Linked DNA regions of Homo sapiens. The protein of the gene in region 1 purifies or fractionates together with the protein of each later gene. This does not show direct contact. Each region holds a gene or a part of one and is shown in the gene's direction. Other genes may lie near its edges.

The links.
Region 2: the proteins of C1QTNF9B (region 1) and TMEM132A purify together in Homo sapiens (co-immunoprecipitation; 2 studies listed by BioGRID and IntAct, with this or other methods). This does not show direct contact.
Region 3: the proteins of C1QTNF9B (region 1) and MRC2 purify together in Homo sapiens (affinity purification with mass spectrometry; one large-scale study listed by BioGRID and IntAct). This does not show direct contact.
Region 4: the proteins of C1QTNF9B (region 1) and FAHD2B purify together in Homo sapiens (co-immunoprecipitation; one large-scale study listed by IntAct). This does not show direct contact.
Region 5: the proteins of C1QTNF9B (region 1) and CSPG4 purify together in Homo sapiens (affinity purification with mass spectrometry; one large-scale study listed by BioGRID and IntAct). This does not show direct contact.
Region 6: the proteins of C1QTNF9B (region 1) and CHPF2 purify together in Homo sapiens (co-immunoprecipitation; one large-scale study listed by IntAct). This does not show direct contact.
Region 7: the proteins of C1QTNF9B (region 1) and IDH3G purify together in Homo sapiens (co-immunoprecipitation; one large-scale study listed by IntAct). This does not show direct contact.

What each region holds. Positions count from the first base shown.
Region 1 is NC_000013.11:23,894,703-23,898,781, reverse strand, and holds the start of C1QTNF9B (complement C1q and tumor necrosis factor-related protein 9B precursor), read left to right. Parts: upstream 1-1,279; 5' UTR 1,280-1,364; intron 1,365-1,555; 5' UTR 1,556-1,660; intron 1,661-1,775; 5' UTR 1,776-1,795; coding exon 1,796-1,961; intron 1,962-4,079. UniProt on the Homo sapiens protein: Probable adipokine. Activates AMPK, AKT, and p44/42 MAPK signaling pathways.
Region 2 is NC_000011.10:60,934,460-60,937,659, forward strand, and holds the end of TMEM132A (transmembrane protein 132A isoform b precursor), read left to right. Parts: intron 1-28; coding exon 29-305; intron 306-792; coding exon 793-984; intron 985-1,404; coding exon 1,405-2,448; 3' UTR 2,449-2,700; downstream 2,701-3,200. Other genes in the region: SLC15A3 (solute carrier family 15 member 3), read right to left, coding at 2,760-2,914. UniProt on the Homo sapiens protein: May play a role in embryonic and postnatal development of the brain. Increased resistance to cell death induced by serum starvation in cultured cells. Regulates cAMP-induced GFAP gene expression via STAT3 phosphorylation.
Region 3 is NC_000017.11:62,626,371-62,630,469, forward strand, and holds the start of MRC2 (C-type mannose receptor 2 precursor), read left to right. Parts: upstream 1-1,299; 5' UTR 1,300-1,432; coding exon 1,433-1,550; exon of another isoform or gene 1,551-1,680; intron 1,681-4,099. UniProt on the Homo sapiens protein: May play a role as endocytotic lectin receptor displaying calcium-dependent lectin activity. Internalizes glycosylated ligands from the extracellular space for release in an endosomal compartment via clathrin-mediated endocytosis.
Region 4 is NC_000002.12:97,088,383-97,091,882, reverse strand, and holds part of FAHD2B (oxaloacetate tautomerase FAHD2B, mitochondrial), read left to right. Parts: 5' UTR 1-20; intron 21-170; 5' UTR 171-176; coding exon 177-421; intron 422-1,557; coding exon 1,558-1,774; coding exon of another isoform or gene 1,775-1,831; exon of another isoform or gene 1,832-2,307; intron 2,308-3,500. UniProt on the Homo sapiens protein: Tautomerase that converts enol-oxaloacetate, a strong inhibitor of succinate dehydrogenase, to the physiological keto form of oxaloacetate. It is thereby required to maximize aerobic respiration efficiency by preventing succinate dehydrogenase inhibition.
Region 5 is NC_000015.10:75,678,349-75,681,848, reverse strand, and holds part of CSPG4 (chondroitin sulfate proteoglycan 4 precursor), read left to right. Parts: intron 1-3,500. UniProt on the Homo sapiens protein: Proteoglycan playing a role in cell proliferation and migration which stimulates endothelial cells motility during microvascular morphogenesis. May also inhibit neurite outgrowth and growth cone collapse during axon regeneration.
Region 6 is NC_000007.14:151,235,483-151,239,322, forward strand, and holds the end of CHPF2 (chondroitin sulfate glucuronyltransferase), read left to right. Parts: coding exon 1-130; intron 131-925; coding exon 926-1,108; intron 1,109-1,473; exon of another isoform or gene 1,474-1,690; intron 1,691-1,891; coding exon 1,892-3,199; 3' UTR 3,200-3,340; downstream 3,341-3,840. Other genes in the region: SMARCD3 (SWI/SNF-related matrix-associated actin-dependent regulator of chromatin subfamily D member 3), read right to left, coding at 3,621-3,674. UniProt on the Homo sapiens protein: Transfers glucuronic acid (GlcUA) from UDP-GlcUA to N-acetylgalactosamine residues on the non-reducing end of the elongating chondroitin polymer. Has no N-acetylgalactosaminyltransferase activity.
Region 7 is NC_000023.11:153,788,322-153,791,375, reverse strand, and holds part of IDH3G (isocitrate dehydrogenase [NAD] subunit gamma, mitochondrial isoform a precursor), read left to right. Parts: intron 1-524; coding exon 525-566; intron 567-800; coding exon 801-812; intron 813-1,083; coding exon 1,084-1,181; intron 1,182-1,551; coding exon 1,552-1,664; intron 1,665-3,054. UniProt on the Homo sapiens protein: Regulatory subunit which plays a role in the allosteric regulation of the enzyme catalyzing the decarboxylation of isocitrate (ICT) into alpha-ketoglutarate.

The sequences.
Region 1 (4,079 bases):
CAGCTACTCGAGAAGCTGAATTGCTTGAACCTGGGAGGCGGAGTTTGCAGTGAGCAGAGATGGCACTCCAGCCTGGGTCACAAGAGTGAAACTACATCTCAAAAAAAAAAAAAAAAAAAATTAGCCGGGTGTGGTGGTGCATGCCTGTAGTCCCAGCTGCTTGGGAGGTTGAGGCAGGAGGATCACTTGAGCTGGGAGGTTGAGACTACAGTGAGCTGTGATTGCATGACTGTACTTCAGCCTTGGTGATGGAGCAAGACCTTGTCTCCAAAAATTATATATATATCCTAAGACATCTCCCATGATGATACATTAATTTCATTCAACAAGTATTTGTTCAATCTGCTGTTCCAAGTTTAATATTGAGTACTGGGAAGGCAATAATGAGGAAATACAGTCAGGCGGGGAGTCAGATTCTTCATCCTACAATTATGTAAACAAGTGTCAAGCCCCTGCCATGACAAGCGCCATGTGGGAGAGTAACAGGGTGCTCCACAGCCCTGAGTGGGAGCGTTGCTGAGTCAGGAGGCCCAGCCATCCACGTTTCATCTTCCTTCCAGGCCTTGCGTTTGCTGCTCCGTTTGGAGCACTGCCCAAGCGTTGTCTTAGCTCCTGCTGCGGGGGAAACTGCATGGATAACCTGGGGTGGGGGCAGTGTCTACAGAGGAAAGGACTTGAAAATGCACTTCTCCCGAACTAGGTGATGTTTTCTGTGTGTGTGGCCCTTCTTCACAGTGGCCTCCTAGAAAAACAAGACCCTGACTCAAAGAATACCTCTCATTACAGTAAGACTGTTTGGAATGCTTTACTTTTTTAAAAATTTAATTTAATTGTTTAATGTGGTAAAAAAAATATATAACATAAAACTAACCAGCTTAACCATCTTAAGGGCACAGTTCAGTGGCATTAAGTACATTCTCTTTGTTGTGCAACCATCACCACCACCCATCTCCAGAACTCTTTTAAAATCTTCCCAAACTCTGTACCCATCAAACAACTCCCATTTCCTTCTCTCTTCACCTCTGGCAACCATCATCCTACTTTTTCTTTATATGAGTTTGACGGCTCTAGGAACCTCTTATAACTGAAGTTATCCAGGTCTGTCTGTTTGTGACTAGCTAGTTTCACTTAGCATAATGTTCTCGAGGTCCATTCATGTAACACATGTCAGAATTTCTTTTCTTTCTAAGGCTGAAGAATATTCCATTGTATGGACCTACCACATTGCATGTATCTGTTTATCCACTGAGGGACCCTTGGGTTGCTATGGAAAATAATGCAACTACGAACATGGACATCTGTTCTAGTCCTTGCTTTCAATTATTTTGTGTAGATGCACAGCAGTGGAATTGCTGGATCAGATGGTAATGCTATGTTTGCTTCACTATTTGTCATGTGCCTTTATGCATATTGTGATAAAATTTGATTTTTACAATAGTCCTGTGAGATAAGTAAGCATTGGTCTGTGGTTAAGAGAAGTGATTTCTTCAAAGTGAAATGATGAACGGAAGAGTATCCTGACCTTAAACTTGGCTTTTTTTTATTGCCCGTTCAGCTTGAAGAGTGGTTCCAATCACAAGTGTTACCTTCCAAGGACAATGTCATCCTGGTAATAACCAGCTTGCTCCCCTGCCCTGAGTCTTCTGCCAAGTCTGTCCAGGTGTGGGTCTGGGGCAGGGGACAGCTCATCCATTTCCCACTGCACAGAACGGAGGCTGTGTCCAGGGCCCCAGCAACAAAGGTTTCTCCTCTGGGTTTCTGTTTCCCTCTTTCAGTTCAGTCTGTCATCTGAACCATGAGGATCTGGTGGCTTCTGCTTGCCATTGAAATCTGCACAGGGAACATAAACTCACAGGACACCTGCAGGCAAGGGCACCCTGGAATCCCTGGGAACCCCGGTCACAATGGTCTGCCTGGAAGAGATGGACGAGACGGAGCGAAGGGTGACAAAGGCGATGCAGGTACTCACCTGACGGCTTCGGCTGCCTTTGAGCTTCTCTCTTCATTACTTTCATCTCATTCACTCATCATCTGTGTGGTTTTCCACCTACCCACTCACAACCCATCCATCCATCCACCCAGCAACATTCACTGGAGCCTGACCCCATTCATCCATCCACCCATCTGCCCAGCAACACTCACGGGGTCTGCTCCATGCCAGACTCTGTGCCAGGTGCTGGTGGAGAGCACAGGGCCAGATCGCCATGACCCCTGCCCTCCTGGGTTCTCTCATCTCTGACACCGCAGGACATTTTCAGTAGTATACAATGTCATGGATCCTCCCACCTCAGGTGACAGGTATGTTGGATTTTTGGCAACACGAGGCCAATAGAGAGATCTGATCATGAATTATTTGGCAGCAAGCACCCAGCTGCAGTGCAGGTGAGAGCTAATACCATATCATGTCATGAAGCAGGAGATGCGGAGTGACAGATGACACATACAGCTGCTGCTTATGAATCTATGACCTAGGCAGGGTCTGGGGATCTGGGGACAGAATCCATCCTCTGGGAGGGAGATTTGCCAAAGCCTGGAAGTCTGAGTGCTTTCCATAACAACAACCAATAGACTTGGTTTCTGAATGGGGTACCATTCTTGAGGCCTGGTCTTGACCATAGGGTCACATATCTAAGACTTATGCAGAATGATTCACTGGGTTAAGAGCACAGTTCAGTGGCATTAGAAAGAAAATATCAAAACTTCTATGGACCTTTTTACAAATAAGTTTGTGTTTCTAACATGTCTCACTTTATGGCATTTGGTGGCCTGATAGTTTTTTGAATGGGCTGGATGAAGCCAAGGGTCACCAGGAAGCAACTTTATTTCTTTCTAACCGGCACATCTGCTCTGTGAGGTGTCTTCTCCTGGCTCCTCACATCTCCAGCTCATTGAGACTGTTCCAGTCCCCCGGTAGCAAATAGCCCAGTCCAAATGAATACTAAAACCTTACCCTTAATGAAATCAGGTCTTCTGCCCTCACACTGTGACCACAGTGGTGTGTGTGTGTGTGTGTGTGTGTGTGTGTATGTCTGTGTCTGTGTGTATTTTATTTCTGAATGTTTAGGATTTTCATTTTTTAAATTTTTGTTATAAAATATTACACATAAAAGGAGATAAATAGGTGATACAAAATACAGAGAACTAAGACAAACACTTCTATATTCAATACCAAATTTCTCTACCTCTTCCGTGTTGAATTTCTCTCCTCTGCTCACCAATGTCCATTCTTTCAAGTTTTACATACTTCTTAGAAGCAAATGTTATATCTATTTTTTCTATGTAATTCATAAGTATTATTTGTAATATATATTCTTTCTTAGAAGGACATTCAATCACATTGCTCACACTAAAAATTTACTTCATTTTTATCTTACCATCTTAAAGTGTATTTTTGTGTATGTTTTATACCAAACATATTTTTCATATACTACCTGTGCATAATGTAGAAACATATAAATGTCTACTGATTGGGGTCTGTGTTCATGCTTTGTGAGTTGTGGTGCGTGATCATGAAAGCTCAGAGGCCACTGCTCTAGAGAATGGGAGAAACGAGAGCCAAGCAGGGGAACAAAAAGAGGGAAGGAGAGGAAGACACAGGGGAGCAGCCAGTAGAGGGGAGGGAAGGGGAGCGCAGGGAGGGGCAAATGTAGGGATAAGCCCCCTCCATTCAGAGGTCCCACGCTGACCAAGGCCCCACTCAGGAGCGCTGGTGTCCCAGGAGAACAGACATCGTGACAGAAATAAGTCTGCCTGTGTCAGTCCTGTCTCAGGACCTGCAAGCCGGCCCAGCCTGCGCCTGTCGCCCCACAGCCACGTCAGTGGGTCTGAAGTATGGGAGTCTCTGCTGCTTTGTGAGAAGCCAGAGTCTGGGGTGAGCTGTGGCCCAATGAGCACTCTACTGCCATAGCCAGAGCCACCTTCAACCCGCTGACGGATAGCACGCCGACCTGGAGCTCAGGGGGGCCTGTTCTGAGCACAAGGACTTGAGTGTAGTCAGCAGAGCCCCACTCACCTGATGTTCTCTGCCAGCTCGATTAGTAGCATTTCCCCCAGTGTAAGGCACTAGAGGGATCCCTCCA
Region 2 (3,200 bases), on another chromosome or scaffold:
GGCCAGTCCCGGCCTCCCCGCCCTGCAGGCCTGCGGAACCCGCTGCAGAGGCGTCGGATGAGGCCGAGCGGCGCGCCCGTGGCTGCCACCTGCAGTACCAGCGGGCCGGTGTGCGCTTCCTCGCCCCCTTCGCGGCCCACCCGCTGGACGGCGGCCGCCGCCTCACGCACCTGCTTGGCCCCGACTGGCTGCTAGACGTGTCCCACCTCGTGGCGCCACACGCCCGCGTGCTGGACTCGCGTGTAGCCTCTCTGGAGGGTGGCCGTGTCGTGGTGGGCCGGGAGCCCGGTGTCACCTCCATTGAGGTAAGCAGCTGGGGACCAGGAGAGTAGACCCCCTGAGAAGGGTGGAGGGGCCCCCAAAATGTTCGTGGGTGGGAGTGAAGAGTGTGCCAGGAGCCCAGAGTGTGTGGGGGAGTTGTGCGGTCTAGGTCTGAGTGCAGTGGGATTGGGGATAGGCTCAGAATGGGGTGGCCGCATAAGGGGGGAAGCCCTCTAGCTATGAAGGGCTGAGGTGTGGGTAGTGTGGGGACCGGGTCTTGAGGGAAAAGGGAACTGCCCCCTAGGTGTGGGATTGGGGTCCAGGTATGCACCGGGGTGCAAAGAGTAGAGGGATAGTAGCCCATGAGCCTGCTGGGAGTACCCGGTTCCCTCTGGGTGGGGGCTGTCCGTGGCGAAGACCTCCCCCACCTCCGGAGGGCAGCCCGTGAGGGTGCTGGGAGCACCCGGTTCCCTCTGGGTGGGGGCTGTCTGTATGGAAGGCCCCCCACCTCCAGCTCCTTTCCACCCTCAGGTGCGTTCCCCACTGTCTGACTCCATCCTGGGGGAGCAGGCGCTGGCTGTGACGGACGACAAGGTCTCAGTGCTGGAGCTGAGGGTGCAGCCAGTGATGGGCATCTCGCTGACCTTGAGCCGGGGCACTGCCCACCCCGGGGAGGTCACAGCTACGTGCTGGGCACAGTCAGCCCTTCCCGCCCCAAAGCAGGTGACAGTTGGGGGGTCAGGGGGATGAGGTCAACATCTCCAGATGGGGGCTCATGGTAGAGGGGAATGGGAGGAAGGGACCCTGGTACCTCGACCCCTTAGGGTTTTCAGAGTGAGGACTGACTCTGTGAGGTAGTGAGCTCTCTGCAGCTGGAGGTGATCAAGCAGTGGCTGGAGTATGGCAGTGGGAGGTTGGTTAGATGGCTCTAACTGAGGACCCTCCCAATAACTCAGACCCTAGGGCTGAGTGGCAGACAGGTGATTGACACGCGTCCCCTCTCTCCCTGTGTTTTGTCTATCTGCCTGTGTCTCTGTTTTCTCTCTGGTCTCTCCTCCATGTGGCCTATCTCTGTGGGAGTGGTTTCTCTGTGCATGCGTGCGTGCCCTCGCATGTCTCTGCCTGTGTCTGTGTGCCCCACAGGAGGTGGCCCTCTCCCTATGGCTGTCCTTCTCTGATCACACTGTGGCCCCAGCTGAGCTCTACGACCGCCGTGACCTGGGACTGTCCGTCTCAGCCGAGGAGCCTGGTGCCATCCTGCCAGCTGAGGAGCAGGGTGCCCAGCTCGGGGTGGTGGTGAGTGGGGCAGGCGCCGAGGGGCTGCCGCTGCATGTGGCTCTGCACCCGCCCGAGCCCTGCCGCCGGGGCCGCCACCGTGTGCCTCTGGCCTCTGGCACCGCCTGGCTGGGGCTGCCCCCTGCCTCCACTCCAGCCCCTGCTCTCCCATCCAGCCCTGCTTGGAGCCCACCAGCCACAGAAGCCACCATGGGTGGTAAACGGCAGGTGGCAGGCAGTGTCGGGGGCAACACAGGTGTGAGGGGCAAGTTTGAGCGGGCAGAGGAGGAGGCCAGGAAGGAGGAGACCGAAGCCAGGGAGGAGGAGGAGGAAGAGGAGGAGGAGATGGTCCCTGCCCCTCAGCATGTCACTGAGCTAGAGCTGGGCATGTACGCCCTGCTGGGAGTCTTCTGCGTGGCCATCTTCATCTTCTTGGTCAATGGTGTGGTCTTCGTCCTGCGCTATCAGCGCAAAGAACCTCCCGACAGTGCCACTGACCCCACCTCCCCCCAGCCCCACAACTGGGTCTGGCTGGGCACTGACCAGGAGGAACTGAGCCGCCAGCTGGACCGGCAGTCCCCTGGCCCGCCCAAGGGGGAGGGGAGCTGCCCCTGTGAGAGTGGGGGAGGAGGGGAGGCCCCTACCCTGGCCCCTGGCCCTCCTGGGGGCACCACCAGCTCCTCAAGCACCCTGGCCCGAAAGGAGGCTGGGGGGCGGCGGAAGCGAGTAGAGTTTGTGACATTTGCGCCAGCCCCTCCAGCCCAGTCACCTGAGGAGCCTGTAGGGGCCCCTGCTGTGCAGTCCATCCTTGTGGCAGGCGAGGAGGACATCCGCTGGGTGTGTGAGGACATGGGGCTGAAGGACCCTGAGGAGCTTCGCAACTACATGGAGAGGATCCGGGGCAGCTCCTGACCCTCCACAGCCACCTGGTCAGCCACCAGCTGGGGCAACGAGGGTGGAGGTCCCACTGAGCCTCTCGCCTGCCCCCGCCACTCGTCTGGTGCTTGTTGATCCAAGTCCCCTGCCTGGTCCCCCACAAGGACTCCCATCCAGGCCCCCTCTGCCCTGCCCCTTGTCATGGACCATGGTCGTGAGGAAGGGCTCATGCCCCTTATTTATGGGAACCATTTCATTCTAACAGAATAAACCGAGAAGGAAACCAGAGCTGGGACTGCTGCCGTCTGTCCGGTAGAGTGAAGCAAGGGGGCTGGAATAGGGCCTGTTCAGCCCCTGTCCCTGCTGAAACGGCTGTGGGAGGCTGGGCCCTGGGACGCCCTCTCATAGCGTCCAGCGATCCAGACAAATAGGAGAGCCGTGACGGCCTGAATGCCAGCCAGCAGGAAGAAGTAGAGGTCCATCCGGCAATTGTTGATGTTCCCTGGGGAAAGGAGGGGTTAGATTTGGGTCAGGACAGGGATCCTCTGTCTTGCGCCCTGTGCCTGCCGTGTCCTAGCCCTGGGGCTGGCAACTGAGGCCATGTGGGCAGTGGTGGGATCTGAAGACACTGGACAGATACCCACTAATGTTTGACTTCCTGAAGATCTCCAGGGGTGTCTACAATTCCTCTTCAGCTATTCAGAAGGGGGCGTGAAATATAAACACCATGAGAAAGGTAACCCTTCAGCCAGAGATGGCAGAGTTCCAGAAGCAGAAAGGAGCCTTGG
Region 3 (4,099 bases), on another chromosome or scaffold:
AAAGGAAAAAAATTGAATTTATTTCCAAAAAACATACCAAGGTGGACAAGATAGGAAACAATACAATTTATATTACAGTTTTATTATTATTTAAAAATTTTATATTAACAAAATGAGATGGGATCTGCCTATGTTGCCCAGGCTGGTCTTCAACTCCTGGGCTCAATCTCCTCGGCCTCCGAAAGTGTGATTACAGGCGTGAGCCACCGCACCCGGCCCATATTACAGTTTCATAGTGTTTTTGATTACTCGTGGTAGGAGAAATGTGTCTTCTTTGCACTTGGGGTCTCAACGTCTCAGTCCTGCCCTATGCCCCGAGACCCCAAGAGGCTTTCCCAAGGTCAGGCAGGGAATCCGCAGAGAGGCAGGGCTGGACTCCAGCATCCTGACTCCCCAGTTCGTGCTCTGTGCTGCAGAGACCTGTTGCGTAACACTGAGTAACTGTGGATTGTCTAACCTTTTATGAAATTTCCAGCTGGTCTTTTGCTACCGGCCAGCAGTCCAGTTGGTGGGAGTGATGATGCCGGTCTTCTGAGACGTCCAGTGGACAGATTTTCCCCAGGTTTCTGGATGCAGCCCCAACAAGCAAAAGTGCTACACTCCTGCACCGGGAACACTGACACAGGGGTCACGAAAATGCTAAAACAAGACGTGCAAGAATTGTTGCGCTCCGCACACGTAACAAGGGCTCTGCCTCCCCCTCCCCCAATCTTCGCCCTGGTGGCCAGGCCCTGGGCTCCGCCCCTTCCCCACCAGACCGGGGGAGGGGTCCTCCTCGGCATGGAGGTAGGGGATGCTAGGCTGCTGGAGACGCCCGCAGAAAGAGGCGGGATGGCGGGGCGGATGCTGGCGGCCCGGGTCTGGCCACCTGGGTCAGCTGCACGCCCCCGCCCCGGGCTGGCCGGACCTCGTAGCCCAGGTCCCACCACGCCGTGAAGTTTGCGGAAAGTTTTGCAGTTGCTTCCCCGCCCGCGCCAGCGGGGGAGTTGTGACGCAGCGTCTGGGGATCCTGGCCGGGACAGAAGAGAGGGAAGGCGAGGCGGGGAGAGACTGGGAAACAGAGCAGCAAGAGAAAGGGCGCACGCTGGGGTCCTCCTGGACCCGGCGTGTCCTCCTCTCCGCCACCCCTTTCTCTCCCTCCCGACGCTCTAGCCCCAGACCCGCGCCTCCTCCCCTTCCCCTCCCACGCTGCCCACTTCCCTTCCCCTCTACCCCTCGAACCCTCCTCCCCGGTTCTGCGCTCCTCCCTCCGCCCTCCCTCCGCCCGGGCTGCCTCCTCCCTCCTCCTCCCCGGGAGGCATCACTTCGTCCCGACCCGGAGGAGGACGCGAGCCCCTTGCGGGCGGTCATCACAGCCCAGCCTCGGGGCTGCCACAGCGCGTTGCGCCTGTGCGCCCTCGGTCCCCGCGTCCACTGAGCGCCGCGCTCGGGGATGGGGCCCGGCCGGCCGGCCCCCGCGCCCTGGCCTCGTCACCTGCTGCGCTGCGTCCTGCTCCTCGGGTGCCTGCACCTCGGCCGTCCCGGCGCCCCTGGGGACGCCGCCCTCCCGGGTAAGGCGCTGCCAACTTGGCCAACTTCAGGGCCCGGGCGGGGGGAGCGCCGAGGCGCGGGCCGCTCTCGACTTTTCCCTCCTTTTCCCCCCTCTTTTCTCCAGAAGCGTGTGTGCGTGTGTGTGTGACTGGGTTTTTAAAACTCGTCTCCGCTTTTCTGAAAGCGGGGGAGGAGAGGGGAGGAGGAGCGCGCCTAGAGGTGGGGGAGGACCTGAGTGGAACCAGATGTGGCGGGCGGCGGGGGAGGGGAGCCCGGGGGACTCCAGCAGCCTAGGAGGAAGCGGGTGGGCTCTTGAGGACCCCCGCGCACCGCGCTCCCGGACCACCCGGCGCCGGCCCGTCCTCGGCAGGGGACCTGCAGGGCGCGCCCGGGGAGCCAGGGCTCTCTGTCCGGGAGTTCCCGGGCCCAGTCTCCTCGCTCTGCCCCAGGACTGATGCGTTAGGACGGCTTTCCAACTATCCGCGAGGGTTCGTTTCCCCCACCTTCCCCCCGCCCCCTGCATCTCGTGGGCGTTGATATTTTCTTTTCCACACTTAGTCTTCAAGGAGGCTTGTGGCGCGCGGCATCCGCCCCGCGTGAGCTCGGCAGCCCTGTGAGGAGGCTCCTGCCACTGGGACGCAGCAACAGGCTGGGCGCCGCCGTGCTGTGATGTTGCGTAGCGTGGGCAGCTCTGGGCACACTAGTGGCCCTCCAGAGGGGACAGACCTTGAGCGGCAAAAGAGCTGCTAAAGATTTTAAAACCCAACGAACAGGAAACAAAACAAAAATCAGAAAACCCCAAAACTGTGCCATTCTCTTCCTGCTCCTTATTCAGGGGTAACAGTGAAGTGTGGGGACAGACAGATCCCTCGCCAAGAATCTAAGAGTTGAAAGGAAAGATCCACTTCCTGGGGGAGTGGGGGTGGGGGTGTCTGGAGTGACCGGGGGAATCGCCCGGCCCAGCTTGGTCCTGCTGGCTGTTTAATTGGGGGATGGGGACAGTCCGTGCAGTGTCTGCAGTTTTGTGCAAGGACCAGACAGCCCCCTGGAGAGTCTGGGGCCTCCAGCCTGGCCCGTGCTTGCTGGGTTGGCCTGGCGTGACGTAGGCACAAGACACATATCTGCCAGATGGGAAAGGTGGGGGCCACGGTGACCCACATTCACACCAACCGGAGACCCCCGGGGCAATTCTGGGCCCACCTGGCATTGAATGTGGGACAGACACAAACCAGGCCGGGTAACCCCCTAACCCACTGCAGGGCGGCCTCACAGGCAGTTCCCCTACCTCCTCGCACTCCTGCCTTCCTCTGCTCCTCTGCGCAGGGCCTCAGGAGGCAGGCGGTGGGAAGGGGTGGGGAGGATGGCCATTCCCAGAGCTCCAGAGCACACTTTAAAGCCAGGCCCTGGGAGAGAGTTGTGGCCAGAGTGCTGACTCGGCCTTTCCCCCTGGAGCTTTTCATAGAGGGGGCTGGAAGTGCCTGGTGAGAGGCCCGGTCAGGGAGGACAAGGACGCCTGGAGTGTCCCTCCTCCTCCTGGTCTCTGTGCCTGGCCCTCCCTGGGGCTGTGTCCAGGGATGAATAGCCTCAGAGGGTCCCCTTCCCGTTGGCACTGCATTGACCACACCCTGAGGAGGCTTGGATCTGGGTGGCAGGCAGTGTGAGGTCTTCCAGCAGCAGCTGAGCAGGAGGAGGATGGAGCTGCTGCAGGTTCCTTCCCTCGGAACCGTGCCCTCTGCACAGAGTGCGCTTGCCCCTGCCCTGCCAAATTCCACTGGGCCCTACCCTGGGAAGCCTGTTCAGAGCCTCTGGGCCGAATTCCTTGCCCGAAGAGCTGGCAGCCCCTAGTACCTGGTGAATTACGTTGTTGTTGGGAGGAATTCACCAGCACCAGAGACCAAATAGCCCAGGAAATGCATGTGGGAGGTAGGGTGTGGCAGGCCAGTGCTGCTGGGGGCGAGGCTTATGCCAGGCAGGGCAGGGGCTGCGTGTGGGCAGTTTCCTGACCACCATGGGGGAGCCCTGTGTGCCCAGAGCACGGGGCAGGGGCAGCGAGGCGGCAGTGCCTTCTTGGTGCGTGATGGTGGAATCCATCTTTTCTCCACCTTGGTGGAGTGGCCCGCGGAGACTGTCACTGGAAGGAGTCCTCTTTGTTAGTTGCCATATTACCGCATTTCTGGAGCATGCAGTTTGCTCAGCCTTGAGCCAAGTTCTTGGGGAGGAGGGAAGGTAGAGAAGAGTGTAAGATGCATCCTCTGGAAAAAGAAAATCGTGTGGGAGAATGAAACGTGGAACAGTGAACTGCGTAGGGGGCAGAATGCCATTGGTGGGATGCCTGCCTGCCCAGACCCACGCTCAACCCTTCATGTGCAAGTTCCCATTTCATTTTGATAACAACCCAAGGAGATGGTTATTGTTGGACCATTTTTGCAGTTCAGGAAATGAAGGCTAAGAGGGGTCTGATCATTTACATTGGTCACACCCCTAGTAAGTGAAAGGCTGGAGTGTGGATGCTTCCCGTCTGGAGATTGGAGGCAGGAGAGACCGTATGGGCCAAAGGGTGGCCAAGGCT
Region 4 (3,500 bases), on another chromosome or scaffold:
CACCTTATGAAGTATAGCAGGTAAAATACAAGCCTGGACCGCTTCCCGTGTGGTATGCAGGGAACGGTTGATGGGGCAAAGGGCCTTGGGCTATAGCCCTAGGAATATCAGGGATGCTGATGATGGCTCTGAGATCCTCCATCTCCTGGATCCTGTGTTTTTCTCTGCAGGCTCTGATGCTGGTGTCTGGTAGAAGAAGATTACTCACAGCTCTGCTGCAGGCTCAGAAGTGGCCCTTTCAACCCTCCAGAGACATGAGACTAGTGCAGTTCCGGGCACCCCACCTGGTGGGGCCTCACTTGGGCCTGGAGACAGGGAATGGTGGAGGGGTTATCAACCTCAATGCCTTTGACCCCACACTCCCAAAGACGATGACGCAGTTCCTAGAGCAGGGAGAGGCCACCCTCTCAGTGGCAAGAAGGTAAGTAAGTGGGCAGCATCGCCCTGAAGCAGCTGCCCTGGTCCCCCTGCACCCTCCCCGCTCTGGGAAACAGCACCAGCAGGTAGCTCTTTTGCAAGGGAGCAGAGTAACCCCACCTTTCCTTTTCTCCCGTTCTCTTAAAAGATCCTTAGAAATCTTACATAATAACATCTTCAGTTTTCAGAGGAGAAAACAGAGAGCTAGGGGAGGTGATTAACAATTTCAAGGCCATACATGTGGTGCTGGAACCAGGACTCTATACTTCATCACACTGCCTCCTCTGGGAATGAAGTCCTGGACTGACTGACGGGTCTGGGCCCGGGGGTCCTAAAAGGCATCTTATGCAGCTGGGGGAGTGATATAGACTCCCAGCTCCTACAAGGAGAGAGGACTGCAAGGAGGTTTTCTATAAGACACTTGGTTCCTGGGTTTGGACTAGATTAGGTGAGAGTGTCCCTGAAGCCTGGACCCCTATAGAATCTGGTCTAAGGAGCTGATGAACAATAAATTAAAAATACTTTAAGATGTCATTTTCATCTATTAAAATGGAAAAAAATACAAATGTTTCACAGCTCACAGTATTAACAGTATGTTCCCATATTGCCATATTCTGCAAAGACTGGAAATCTCCATGCCCCTCATTAGGGACTTGGGTATATCTCTATAGAGCAGTAATATGCAGCCACAAGAAATAAAGAGGACACTCTCTATGTATTGTTACATATTGTTAAGCAGAGATCTCCAAAGTCAGTTGTTTTTTTAAAAGATGTAAATAGTATGCTATCATTACATACAAAAGGGTGGGAGAAGAATATCCATAGAGTAGCTGCGAAGAGCCAGGGGAACGGGGTAACCAGAAGGGGAAAGGGAGACCTTTCCATGTATTCCAGTTTGTATCTTTTACATGGACATGAGTTACCTAAGGGGGAGAGGAAATCAATACTGGATAAATAAAAGCCCTGCTCTGACAGCAAAGGACAATAGTCAGTGGTTTTCACACTGACTCTGATGGTTGATAGAGCTAGGAAATAGATTTCAAAAAGCAAAACCTGTAGCTGCTGCAGGATCTGCCCAGCCTGCCCGGGATTGCCCACCTGTTCCCAGCCAGACCCTCTCACCTGCTCTGGTCTCTACAGAGCCTTGGCTGCCCAGTTGCCAGTCCTACCATGGTCGGAGGTAACCTTCCTGGCTCCAGTCACATGGCCAGATAAGGTGGTGTGTGTGGGCATGAATTATGTGGACCACTGCAAAGAACAGAACGTGCCCGTGCCCAAGGAGCCCATCATCTTCAGCAAGTTTGCCAGCTCCATCGTGGGGCCCTATGATGAGGTGGTCCTCCCACCACAGAGCCAGGTCAGTGCCTCCCCACTGCCCTCCCTAGTCACTGGGCCCATCACAAGGGCATTCTGAGCTCAGTATTGAGCCTACTGGAGCCACCTCTCGCTCAGTAGTGCATTCAACAGAAACTCTACAGGATTATACACACAGTAGTAACACTGGCCTTGGAAAAAAAAAGTTAATGTACGTGTTTTCCTGGTTACAAAAGCAATACACCTTCACTGTAGATAAAACAGAGATAAACATTTAAAAATTACGTCACCCATAATCCCACTGCCCATGGCTCGGAATATTAATGTTTTTCTGTCTACCTTCCCAGTGTTTCTCCACTCCTGTATATGTTTATACTGTACATATACTTACCTTTTACTTAAGACTCCATCAGGAGCATTTTTTCATGCCATTAAATATTCTCCCTGACATATTTAGGTTACCTTGGAGTTTTGTGATGTACAGGGTAGTTTATATTCCTGAGTACCTTACTGCTGGATACTTGTTTCCAGTTTTTGGTTTCTATAAATAAATGTCGCAATGAACATCCTTATGTAGAAAAGACTTTGCATGTCCATTAATATATTATTATTTCCTTTTTTTTTTTTTTTTTTTGAGACAGAGTCTTTCTCTGTTGCCAGGCTGGAGTGCAGTGGTACAATCTTGGTTCACTGCAACCTCCGCCTCCTGGGTTCAAGTGATTCTCCTGCCTCAGCCTCCCGAGTAGCTGGGACTACAGGCGCATGCCACCACGCCCACCTAATTTTTGTATTTTTAGTAGAGATGGGGTTTTACCATGTTGGCCAGGATGGTCTCAGTCTCTTGGCCTTGTGATCTGCCTGCCTCAGCCTCCCAAAGTGCTGGGATTACAGGTGTGAGTCACCACACCCGGCCTTATTATTTCCTTTGAATGAACTCTTAGGATTTGAATATTATCAAACTACAGGCAGTATTTCAAAACCCTTGAGAAAATCTCCCAATTGTCCTTTAAGCAAATTGTAAGAGCAACTTACACATCCATCGTTAGTGTATATACCCTTACTAACACTGGTTACTTTTCCTCGCAAATTTTTATTTTAGAAATGTCTTGGGAATTATAGAAAAGCTGAAATAATACAGTGAATGCTCATATACTTTTCACCTGGTTTCACTGTAGACATTTGCTGTATTTGCTTTCTCTCCCTTGCCCTCTCCCTGCCCTTCACATGGCAAACACACATTTTTTTTTTGGCAGGGGTTGGGGTGACACATTGCAAATATTGTCATAAAACTGAAATAGACACTTTATAAGGACAATGGCTTGCATGACCATACCATTATCACAGCCAAGAAAATTAACTTGAATGATATTTAATATGAAATCCAGTTGCCCCAAAGATGACTTTTAATTTGGTTACTTTGTTGCTCTGTGATCAACCAAGGGCACACACTGTATTCAGTTATATCTCTTTAGTAGTTTTAACCTAGAACAGGGTTCCATAGACTTTTTCTTAAAGGGCTGTATTAGTCTGTTTTCTTGCTGCTAATAAAGACATATCCGAGACTGGGCAATTTACAAAAGAAAAAGGTTTAATTGGACTTACAGTTCCACGTGGCTAGAGAAGCCTCACAATCATGGCAGAAGGCAAGGAGGAGCAAGTCACATCTTAGGTGGATAGCAGCAGGCAGAAAAGAGCTTGTGCAGAGAAACTCCCGTTTTTAAAACTATCAGATCTCGTGAGACCCATTCACTATCATGAGAACAGCACGG
Region 5 (3,500 bases), on another chromosome or scaffold:
CCAGAGGCAGAGTGGATCCTAGGGGCAGATGAGCTGATGAAAGGCAGCTGAGTCAGCCAAGAGGGTGAAGCTGCTGTTCATCCGTCCTGGTGGCTTCAGAGACCACCAGGAAGAATTAGAGCTCTCAGCCATGGGTAGCAGCAGACTCTCTGTGATAACTGTGCCATGGGGGCCAGCCCAGTCATCACTTAAATGAACACCACTCGCTGAAGACAGAACAGGAGTTGTTCCATAGCAGGGCAGAGCGGGGCAGACTCTTCCATGGGCCATCCCAGGCAGGCGGCACATGTGATGCTCCCGCCAGGAGGCTGCATGGGCATCTGGACCCAGCACATGATGACAGTGAATTCTGGGTAGGGAGTGGTCTTGTGGGGCGCAGAGCTGACTCTCACTCAGGAGCCACAGCATATGGTACTGCCCCAAGTACCTCCTGAGGGGTCCCCCTGCCAGCCTTCAAAAAATGGCAGAGCCCACCCCAGCCCCCTTTCCTAGCTCGGCAGGGACTCCTGAGCCTGGCACTCTCCCTCCTGAGAGGTGCAGATGGTATTCAGCAAGTGCAAAGGCAAAGTCCCTGCCCAGCAAGTGGCTCAGATTTGGGCATCTGGAAGGAGGTGGCTTTGACAGGTGGAATGAAGTTTCTTGGGCTTCTCACATCAACACCTCCCAGTCCCAGGTTCTGTATTTCCCTGGCTCCCCACTCCTGCTATGGCCCCCTCCCCACAATGAGATATTTGTCAGGCTGGTGTCTGCAGCTGCTGCGTACCCTCAGTTGCTGGGAGCCTTTGTCAAGAATGCCCAGGAATGGAGAGGGCACGGGACCAGGCCATCAGCAACCCTCTTGCACTTTATAGTCCCACGTTACTCAGAGCTTCCCCGTGCCCCAGAAATATGAAGGACTAGACTGAATGGACACCAGGGGGTCAGGCTGGCAGTGCCACCCAGGAAAGCAGGGAAGAGGCTACGTGGGCTACCCTGGCCCACTCTGGGAGGAGGGCAGGACTGGGTATTGTCTTGACAGCAGCCCTGTCCCACAACACTAAACTGGGCAGGGAAGGGGTCAGGTGTCCCCATTTTTCAGATAAGGAAACAGGCTCGTGGAGGGCAGGTAACTTTATTCAGAGCACATGGCGAGTAAGAGGCAAAACTTCTGCCTGCGAGTCCAGGATTTCCTTCACTGGAGGACACTGCTTGCTCCCCAGAGCTCAAGACCCTGTTTTTTGTCTCACTCCCACCCACAGAGCTCCCGTACCCAGGCATCAGCTCCCACTCCCACTCCTGGGGGCTCCATTTCCTTCCTGCCCACCATTCAGCCTGGGCCAGAAGTTGCCACTGGCAACTCTAGTCCTGGGCCAGATCTGGCCCACAGACGTGTTTATTTGGCCTACAAAAAGCAGCTAATACTTTGAAGTTAATTGTCAACATATAACCTTTGGGAAATTAAACAAAAAACTTGATTCCCATTTTCTTAAAAGGCCTGTGTTCCCTCTTACAGCGAAAGCAGGGGAGCAGCCACTTCCTTTAGAACAGGTGCTAGCCCCTATTCAGATAGCTCGGCTCTCCTTCAGACTGGGCTCAGCTGCCCTTTAGCCCAGGCTCTGCTCCCCTTAGACCAGGCCCTGCCCCCACCTCAGACTGGGCCCTGCCTCCCCTTAGCCCGGCCCTGCTCTCCCTTAGCCCAGGCCCTGCCCCATCTTAGACGGGGCCCTGCTCCCCTTACTCCGGCCCCTGCTCCCCCTTACTCCGGGTTCTGCTCCTAGAGTCTTCACAGGTTAAGACCCTGTTAAGTTTCCATGTTACTATTGGGCAAGTCCTGTTTTTCTCTGAGAAGAAAATAGTTCCCAGTGTTTCCTAAAAGGGGAAAATAAGGCCGGGCGCGGTGGCTCACAGCTGTAATCCCAGCACTTTGGGAGGCCAAGGCGGGTGGATCACGAGGTCAAGAGATCGAAACTATCCTGGCTAACATGGTGAAACCCCATCTCTACTAAAATACAAAAAATGAGCTGGGCGTGGTGGCACGCATTTATAGTCCCAGCTACTCAGGAGGCTGAGGCAGGGGAATCGCTTGAACCCGGGAGGTGGAGGTGGAGGTTGCAGTGAGCCAAGATCGTGCCACTGCATTCCAGCCTGGGCGACAGAGCAAGACTCCGTCTCAAAAAAAAGGGTGGGTGGGGAGCAAAAGATAGGCCAAAAGAACACATTGTGATTGGAGGTGGAGAAAACCGTTTTTCTTCCTGGAGCGAAGAATATTCTTTGGTGTTGAACTGCAGGCAGCACCATAGAACAGCAGGTGTGTCTGGAGTGGAGGTGAGGGGAGTTGAGGTCGCAGGGGTGATATGGTCACAGCCAGGCCTTAGTGGTCAGATGGGGAGACACTGCACTATGTGAGCCAAAGAGCCCCATAATCTTCCCTTTCAAAAGGCTCACTCTGGCTGCTGTGTTAGGAACAAAATGTAATGGGCGGGGGACTGCAGCTGGGACACAGGAAGCTGTTACGATAATCCAGGTGAGAGATGCGGTGGTTTGAGGGAAAGAGAGGATGCAAGGGTGGTTCCAAGGGTGTGGCCTGAGCCCTTGAAAACGGAGCTATAGTCTCTGAAGCAGGATGACTGTAGGAGGTGGGGGCCGATCGGGAGTGCAGCCGGGGCAGGTTGAGTTTGAGGTGTCTATTAGATATCGGCAGAGGTAGCTGGAAACATGAGTCTGGGGTTCAGGGGAGAGCAGGCTAGGCTGGAGCTACAAATAAGGGGGTCTCAGCACAGCTGGCATTTGAGGCCAGGAGACTGAATAAGGACTCATGGAGAGTGCCTGTAGACAGAAAAGAGCCTGGAGACCTGGCCATAAGATGTTGGGGAGAAGAGGAGGACCAGCCAGGAGAGTCTGTGAGGTAGGAGGAACCCCAGAGTGAAGTATCCCAGAGCCTGTGGCTCTCTTGGAGGAAGGGTTGCTTGGCGGCACCAGTGCCACTGAGCAGTTAAGAGGAGGCTGAGAGCCGACCGCTGGATCCAACAACACGGAGGCCTCTGGTGCCCTTGGCAAAAGGAGATGTGGCGATGGGGGAGCAAAATCCTGGGTAGAGAGACCCAAGAATGCCTGGGGGAGAGCGTGGACTATGCTTTTTGAAGTTTTGCTGCAAAGAGAAGCAAAGGGGCAGGGGTGAAGCTGGTGGAAAATGTGAAGTCAAGAATAGTTTTTTCTGGCCAGGTGCAGTGCCTCCTGCCTGTAATCCTAGCACTCTGGGAGGCCGAGGCAAGTGGACCGCTTGAGCCCAGAAGTTCAAGACCAGCCTGGGCAACATAGTGAGACCCTGTCTCAACAAACAATAAAAAAAAATAGCTGGGTGTGGTGGCATGTGCCTGCAGTCCCCGCTACTTGGGAAGCTGAGGTGGGAGGATCGCTTGAGCCCTGGAGGTCGAGGCTGCAGTGAGCCATGATCACGCCACTGCAGTCCAGTCTGGGCAACAGAGCAAGACCCTGTCTCAAAATAATAATAATAATAATTA
Region 6 (3,840 bases), on another chromosome or scaffold:
GAGTCTCCTGCTTCGTCTGCGGCCACATCTGGATGGCTGCCGAGGAGACATTCTCAGTGCCCGTCCTGACGAGTGGCTTGGACGCTGCCTCATTGACTCTCTGGGCGTCGGCTGTGTCTCACAGCACCAGGTGACAGCTCTTTCAAGTCAGTCCCAGTCCCTGATAAGCTAGTGGGGGATGAGTGATTGGCCTTCCTCCCAGCAGCACCTTAGAGGCCATTGTTCCCCCTTCCTGGCCACTGGCCGCTCTGTGGGCCCTCCGTTGCTCACCTTTGGCAATCTGAGAACCTGGGGCTATCAAAAGTAGTATCTTGTTAGGAACCCCTAAGCAAGACCAAAGGGTGCTCCTACTCAGCAGTCCTTCTCCCCTGCCCCCCTGCCCTCCACACCTCCCCCGACATCCACACTTCAGTTATGGCAGTGTGGGCATGTCTTAGAGATGGCTAGTCTCCAGAGAAGTGAGGTGATCACTTTTCCAGCCCAGAGAGCTGCCCTGTTTCTTGTGCTGGAGAAGAGTGGAAGAACCCAGAGGTGGCTCATCCTCTCAAACCAAAGTATTGGGAGGATTTTCTGGCTTGTGTCATTCATTCCCTTGAAGAACAATGGGAATCTTTGGGGGAAGAAAGTATCATTATTATTATTTTTAATATGTTATTTCTGTGATGGCTCCTTGCAGAGCAGGGCTAGCCTGTAAGCAATGCACTGAGAGTAGCCGAGAGTGTCCTTAGTTGCCTACTTGCTTTCTACTTTCCAAAATGTGGGCAGTGAAAGAACTGGGGTTAAGCGAGGTGCTGGAAAGGGTGCCTCTTCTGTCCTCTGTTCTAACGCAGCAGTGCTAACAGATGTGAACACTGAGTATGGTTAAGGGCGGTTTGGGACTGGCAGCTCTTGTGTGTGTCATTGATTGGTCTGATTGTCCCTCTAGGGGCAGCAGTATCGCTCATTTGAACTGGCCAAAAATAGGGACCCTGAGAAGGAAGGGAGCTCGGCTTTCCTGAGTGCCTTCGCCGTGCACCCTGTCTCCGAAGGTACCCTCATGTACCGGCTCCACAAACGCTTCAGCGCTCTGGAGTTGGAGCGGGCTTACAGTGAAATAGAACAACTGCAGGTGAGCTGAAGAGGAGCAGGTGGGCAGAGGACCGCAGTCAGAGGGTCAGAGAGAGCCTGAGATGTCCAGGCGTGCAATGAACGAGCAGCTGGCAGTGGGGCTGGGCTAGGCCCTGTATAATGGCAGGGCAGGAAGAGGCCGACCATACTTAAATTTAAAGCAACTACAGGGACAAAGGTCTTTGGGGGTCCAAAGCAATCATAAGGTAAGCTCCCAGCACAACTTGAATGCAGCTAAAGGGGTTTGCAAGTAGACTCTGAGGATCAGGAAGCTCCGCACAGTGTTCAGACAGAATAGTTTTAGCTCCTCCTCAATAGTGCCTGTCCACTGAGGAGGCAAAAACTCTGAAGTTTCTTTACTTCTAGAACTGTCCCAAGAAAGCCCAAGGGTAGAAGGGAGAATTCTCAAGTTGAACGTCAGGCTTGGCAGAGGTGGAGTGTAGATGAAAACAAAGGTGTGATTATGAAGAGGATGTGAGTCCTTTGGGTGTAGGAGAGAAAGGCTGTTGAGCTTCTATTTCAAGATACTTTTACCTGTGCAAAAAGCACATTTTCCACCTCCTTCTCATGGCATTTGTGTAAGGTGAGTATGATTCCTATTCCATCTGCATTTTAGAGGTGAAGAATAACGTACAAGGGATTCAGTGATTAGCAAGGGACCCCTCACTAAGTGTTGATGGAGTTAGGACAGAGCTCAGCTGTTTGAATCTCAGAGCCCAGGCAGCTGGAGCTGGGTAGGATCCTGGAGCTGGCACTAATGTGAGGTGCATTCCCTCCAACCCAGGCTCAGATCCGGAACCTGACCGTGCTGACCCCCGAAGGGGAGGCAGGGCTGAGCTGGCCCGTTGGGCTCCCTGCTCCTTTCACACCACACTCTCGCTTTGAGGTGCTGGGCTGGGACTACTTCACAGAGCAGCACACCTTCTCCTGTGCAGATGGGGCTCCCAAGTGCCCACTACAGGGGGCTAGCAGGGCGGACGTGGGTGATGCGTTGGAGACTGCCCTGGAGCAGCTCAATCGGCGCTATCAGCCCCGCCTGCGCTTCCAGAAGCAGCGACTGCTCAACGGCTATCGGCGCTTCGACCCAGCACGGGGCATGGAGTACACCCTGGACCTGCTGTTGGAATGTGTGACACAGCGTGGGCACCGGCGGGCCCTGGCTCGCAGGGTCAGCCTGCTGCGGCCACTGAGCCGGGTGGAAATCCTACCTATGCCCTATGTCACTGAGGCCACCCGAGTGCAGCTGGTGCTGCCACTCCTGGTGGCTGAAGCTGCTGCAGCCCCGGCTTTCCTCGAGGCCTTTGCAGCCAATGTCCTGGAGCCACGAGAACATGCATTGCTCACCCTGTTGCTGGTCTACGGGCCACGAGAAGGTGGCCGTGGAGCTCCAGACCCATTTCTTGGGGTGAAGGCTGCAGCAGCGGAGTTAGAGCGACGGTACCCTGGGACGAGGCTGGCCTGGCTCGCTGTGCGAGCAGAGGCCCCTTCCCAGGTGCGACTCATGGACGTGGTCTCGAAGAAGCACCCTGTGGACACTCTCTTCTTCCTTACCACCGTGTGGACAAGGCCTGGGCCCGAAGTCCTCAACCGCTGTCGCATGAATGCCATCTCTGGCTGGCAGGCCTTCTTTCCAGTCCATTTCCAGGAGTTCAATCCTGCCCTGTCACCACAGAGATCACCCCCAGGGCCCCCGGGGGCTGGCCCTGACCCCCCCTCCCCTCCTGGTGCTGACCCCTCCCGGGGGGCTCCTATAGGGGGGAGATTTGACCGGCAGGCTTCTGCGGAGGGCTGCTTCTACAACGCTGACTACCTGGCGGCCCGAGCCCGGCTGGCAGGTGAACTGGCAGGCCAGGAAGAGGAGGAAGCCCTGGAGGGGCTGGAGGTGATGGATGTTTTCCTCCGGTTCTCAGGGCTCCACCTCTTTCGGGCCGTAGAGCCAGGGCTGGTGCAGAAGTTCTCCCTGCGAGACTGCAGCCCACGGCTCAGTGAAGAACTCTACCACCGCTGCCGCCTCAGCAACCTGGAGGGGCTAGGGGGCCGTGCCCAGCTGGCTATGGCTCTCTTTGAGCAGGAGCAGGCCAATAGCACTTAGCCCGCCTGGGGGCCCTAACCTCATTACCTTTCCTTTGTCTGCCTCAGCCCCAGGAAGGGCAAGGCAAGATGGTGGACAGATAGAGAATTGTTGCTGTATTTTTTAAATATGAAAATGTTATTAAACATGTCTTCTGCCAAACTGTTTTTAGGTCTAGGGAAAATTGAGTAAGGAGAAGAATCCAAGGGAAGGGAATGGGGAGTCGTCCCGAGGGACCCACTGCCTCCCCACCTTCTTCCCTTCCCCTTCTCTCCCCCTCCCCTCCCCAGTTTCCAATGACCACACGGCTGCTGTCAGATGAATGACTTTTAATCCAGCCCCACACCCCAAGGTGGCAGAGGAGTGATGCTGGAGCCCGGGGCAAAATGCTGGGGCCCGGGACACGGCTGAAAGTTCCGTCGTGCTGCTTATTTTTGGGCTCCTAGGTGTTGCGCACAACCAGCGACTGCTCCAGCTCCTGCCTGCGCTGCTGGATCTTTAGAGGAAGTGAGAACAGGAGCAGGTGTCAGTGTTCTGGTGAGTGATCAGGACAATCCCACCTACTGACACCGCCTGCCCTGAAAGAGCATCTGGGAGCAGGGAGGGCCATTGCATGGTGAGGCAGCGTGGTGAAGCTTTACTGTGGGGAGCTGCGAGGGCTG
Region 7 (3,054 bases), on another chromosome or scaffold:
TGCTTGTCTCAGGGAGGCCGGAGGCTGGGTGCTACCTTCTTATCTCCCTATTCTGCTTTTTCTGTAGCGACCACATGCTGCTTTTGTAATAAGAAAAAGTGATCGGCGAAGTGATAACGTGACTGTTGTCATGGATCTGTGGTTTGTTGTAATGATTTCCCTGCTGTACCAGGGTTAGTTTGCCAGTTTTTGCATGTTACAAACATCGCTGAGCGGGAATAACTGGCCAAAAAAATAATCAGAAGCAAAAAAGAGGAGGGAGGGCAGGGACACGCCTTTTAAGAAATTTTCTGAAGAGCGGAAGGAGGCAGGAGGCTGGAGCGCCTTCTACTTTCCAGGTGCTCCAGCGGGCCGGCCCTGGGGACTGAGGCTTTGGAGCTAATTATCTATTGTGCCCCTGGCAGTGGGCCATGCTGCACAGACAGGGGACCTGCCTGGGCACAGTGGGGACGGTCCGTTTTTCCTTCCAACTTGGCTTTCTGGGTTAGACATCAAACCAACCGCTGGCATTTGGTCTCTGCCAGGTTCTAGGCGCCCACGAGGTCCCCTCGAGGAACATCTTTTCAGTAAGTACCTGCCCGTGCCCACGCATGTGTCTTTCTCCATGTGGCCGCAATTGTGCGCGTGTGTGCACGGCCTGTGTCCTGTCCTCTGAGACGTGGTCTCCAGGGGCTACCCACCCCTCTTCTGGGAGTTGTACTAGCCAGCATCCCCCTGGGAAAAGGTCCCACTTTCCTGGTCACGGCCTTGCTCTTGGAACCTTGGCTGATTGTGTCTTCTTCCTTTCTCATCCTTTCTAGGAACAAACAATTGTGAGTATTCTTCTCTGCCTGTTAGGTTTGGGGGGCTCTTAGTTGCTTTGGGGTTAACTAAATTCCAGGTGGGGGTGGGCTGCTGCTGACCCAGGAGCCCTGGATGAGCAGCCCTGTCTGGGACGGGGCTGCCCCAAGTTGGCACCTTGTGACGGGGCAGCCTGTGGGGTCAGCGCCAGTGGGAAGAAGGGAATTGGCTTGAGCCCATGGGGGCCGAGCTGGGGGCATGTGGGATCCCCGAAGGCCCACCTTCACCCTCTGCCTCCCACAGCCTCCGTCCGCTAAGTATGGCGGGCGGCACACGGTGACCATGATCCCAGGGGATGGCATCGGGCCAGAGCTCATGCTGCATGTCAAGTCCGTCTTCAGGTATGGAGCTCCTGGGTCCCCGCCTTGTCCTCAGCCAGGGGGCCCTGAGGACTTTGTGCCAAGAGGGGCATTGCGCCCAGAAGCACTCGGTGAGGCCATGGCAAGACGACCTGTAAGCCCAGGCCTTGCGTCCCATGGCCTGTGATCCCGCCAGACTGGCCTGGGCTCGGGGAAGGTGGCACCAGTCCTGCCACAGTGTGCATTGTGGAGTTCAAGCGTGTCCCCATCAGTCAGTGAAGGTGGGCCCAGTCCCTTCTCAGTCAGAGCCAGGTCAGGGCAGGTAGCAACAGGAGAGAGGTAGCCTGGGCAGGCTTCCTGGAGGAGGTGCGGGGGGGTCTGGGCCAGCCTCCCTGACCCTGCCGTGCCTCAGGCACGCATGTGTACCAGTGGACTTTGAAGAGGTGCACGTGAGTTCCAATGCTGATGAAGAGGACATTCGCAATGCCATCATGGCCATCCGCCGGAACCGCGTGGCCCTGAAGGGTGAGCTCCAGGGCCAGGGGCCAGGATGGGGCCCTAGGTGTGATTTCTTTCTTGCTTTCTTCCTTCGTTTCTTGCTTACTTGCTCGCTTGCTTGCTTTCTTGCTTGCTTTCCTGCTTTCTTGCTTGCTTGCTTTTTTGCTTTCTTGCTTTCTTTCTTGCGTTCTTTCTGAGATGGGGTCTCGCTCTGTCGCCCAGGCTAGAGTGCAGCGGTGTGATCTCGGCTCAGTGCAACCTCTGCCTTCCAGTTTCAAGCGATTCTCCTGCCTCAGCCTCCCGAGTAGCTGAGATTACAGGCGCCCGCCACCACGCCCAGCTGATTTTTGTATTTTCAGTAGAGAGTGGGTTTCACCATGTTGGCCAGGCTGGTCTTGAACTCCTGACCTCGTGATCTGCCCGCCTCAGCCTCTCAAAGTGTTGGGATTACAGGCGTGAGCCGTCGTGCCCAGCCCCTGTGATTTCTTTTACCTCCCTCTGAGCTGACTCTTGTGGGGCCCCACGGCTCTGATTTCAGGGCTTGTCTGGCTAGAGAGGACCCTCGTGCTTGGAGACTGGGTGGACGCCTCCTCGGGCCTGTTTGCGCTGCGATGCTGGGATTCGAGTGAGAGCAGCTGTGTGTGAGCCTGTCCAGTGACGGGCTCCCTGATGGGTTCCCTCCCACCCCTCCTTCCCTCCTGAGACAGTCCTCTCTGCTGGGGTCAGCTTTGACCCTCAGCATCTTTCTTCACAAACCAGGTATCACAGAGATGCAGTTCCGACCCTCTGCCTGGCTCCTCGGCTGCAGCCAGCCTGGAGGTGGATGGCACAGCCCAGGCAGGGATTCTTGGGGCTTCACTTGAGGTCCTTAAACTACTTCCATTGCTCATTTTGCACACTCAGCCCATTACTTGCACTGTGTGAGGAGCGTGTGAGCAAAGATGAACCCAGGGGGAGCCCCAGGCCCTGGCAGTCAAGTAGAGGGGCCTTTGTGCCAGCCACAGGGGACCCCCGCGCTGTGAGTGGAGCAGTCTGGGTGGGGTACCGCTCACCAGCAGGCGGCCTCTGCTTGGCGCCCTCTGACTGCTGTCTCCAGCGGCCACTGGCCTCTGCTTCCCTTCCTCCAGGTGTCCTGGGTCGTAGGGTAGGGTCCGGCCAATCCGTGGCCTTCTCCAGGCAGCCCCCGCCTGCCTCTGAGTGTGGTGCCTTGATGCGGGGGCTTGGCAGTAACACCGCCAAGGCCACCTTGCTAGCTCCAGCCTGGCCGGCCAACCTGTTAGTAAAGAGTGGTCACTTTCTGTTGCTCCAGAGCCTGGATGGAGAATGGCATGGCTGCCTGGCTGGTTGCCAGCCTTTATTCATTTATTGACTTGTTCATTCCGTCGTTCAGGGGTTATTCATGGAGCACCTGCTGCAC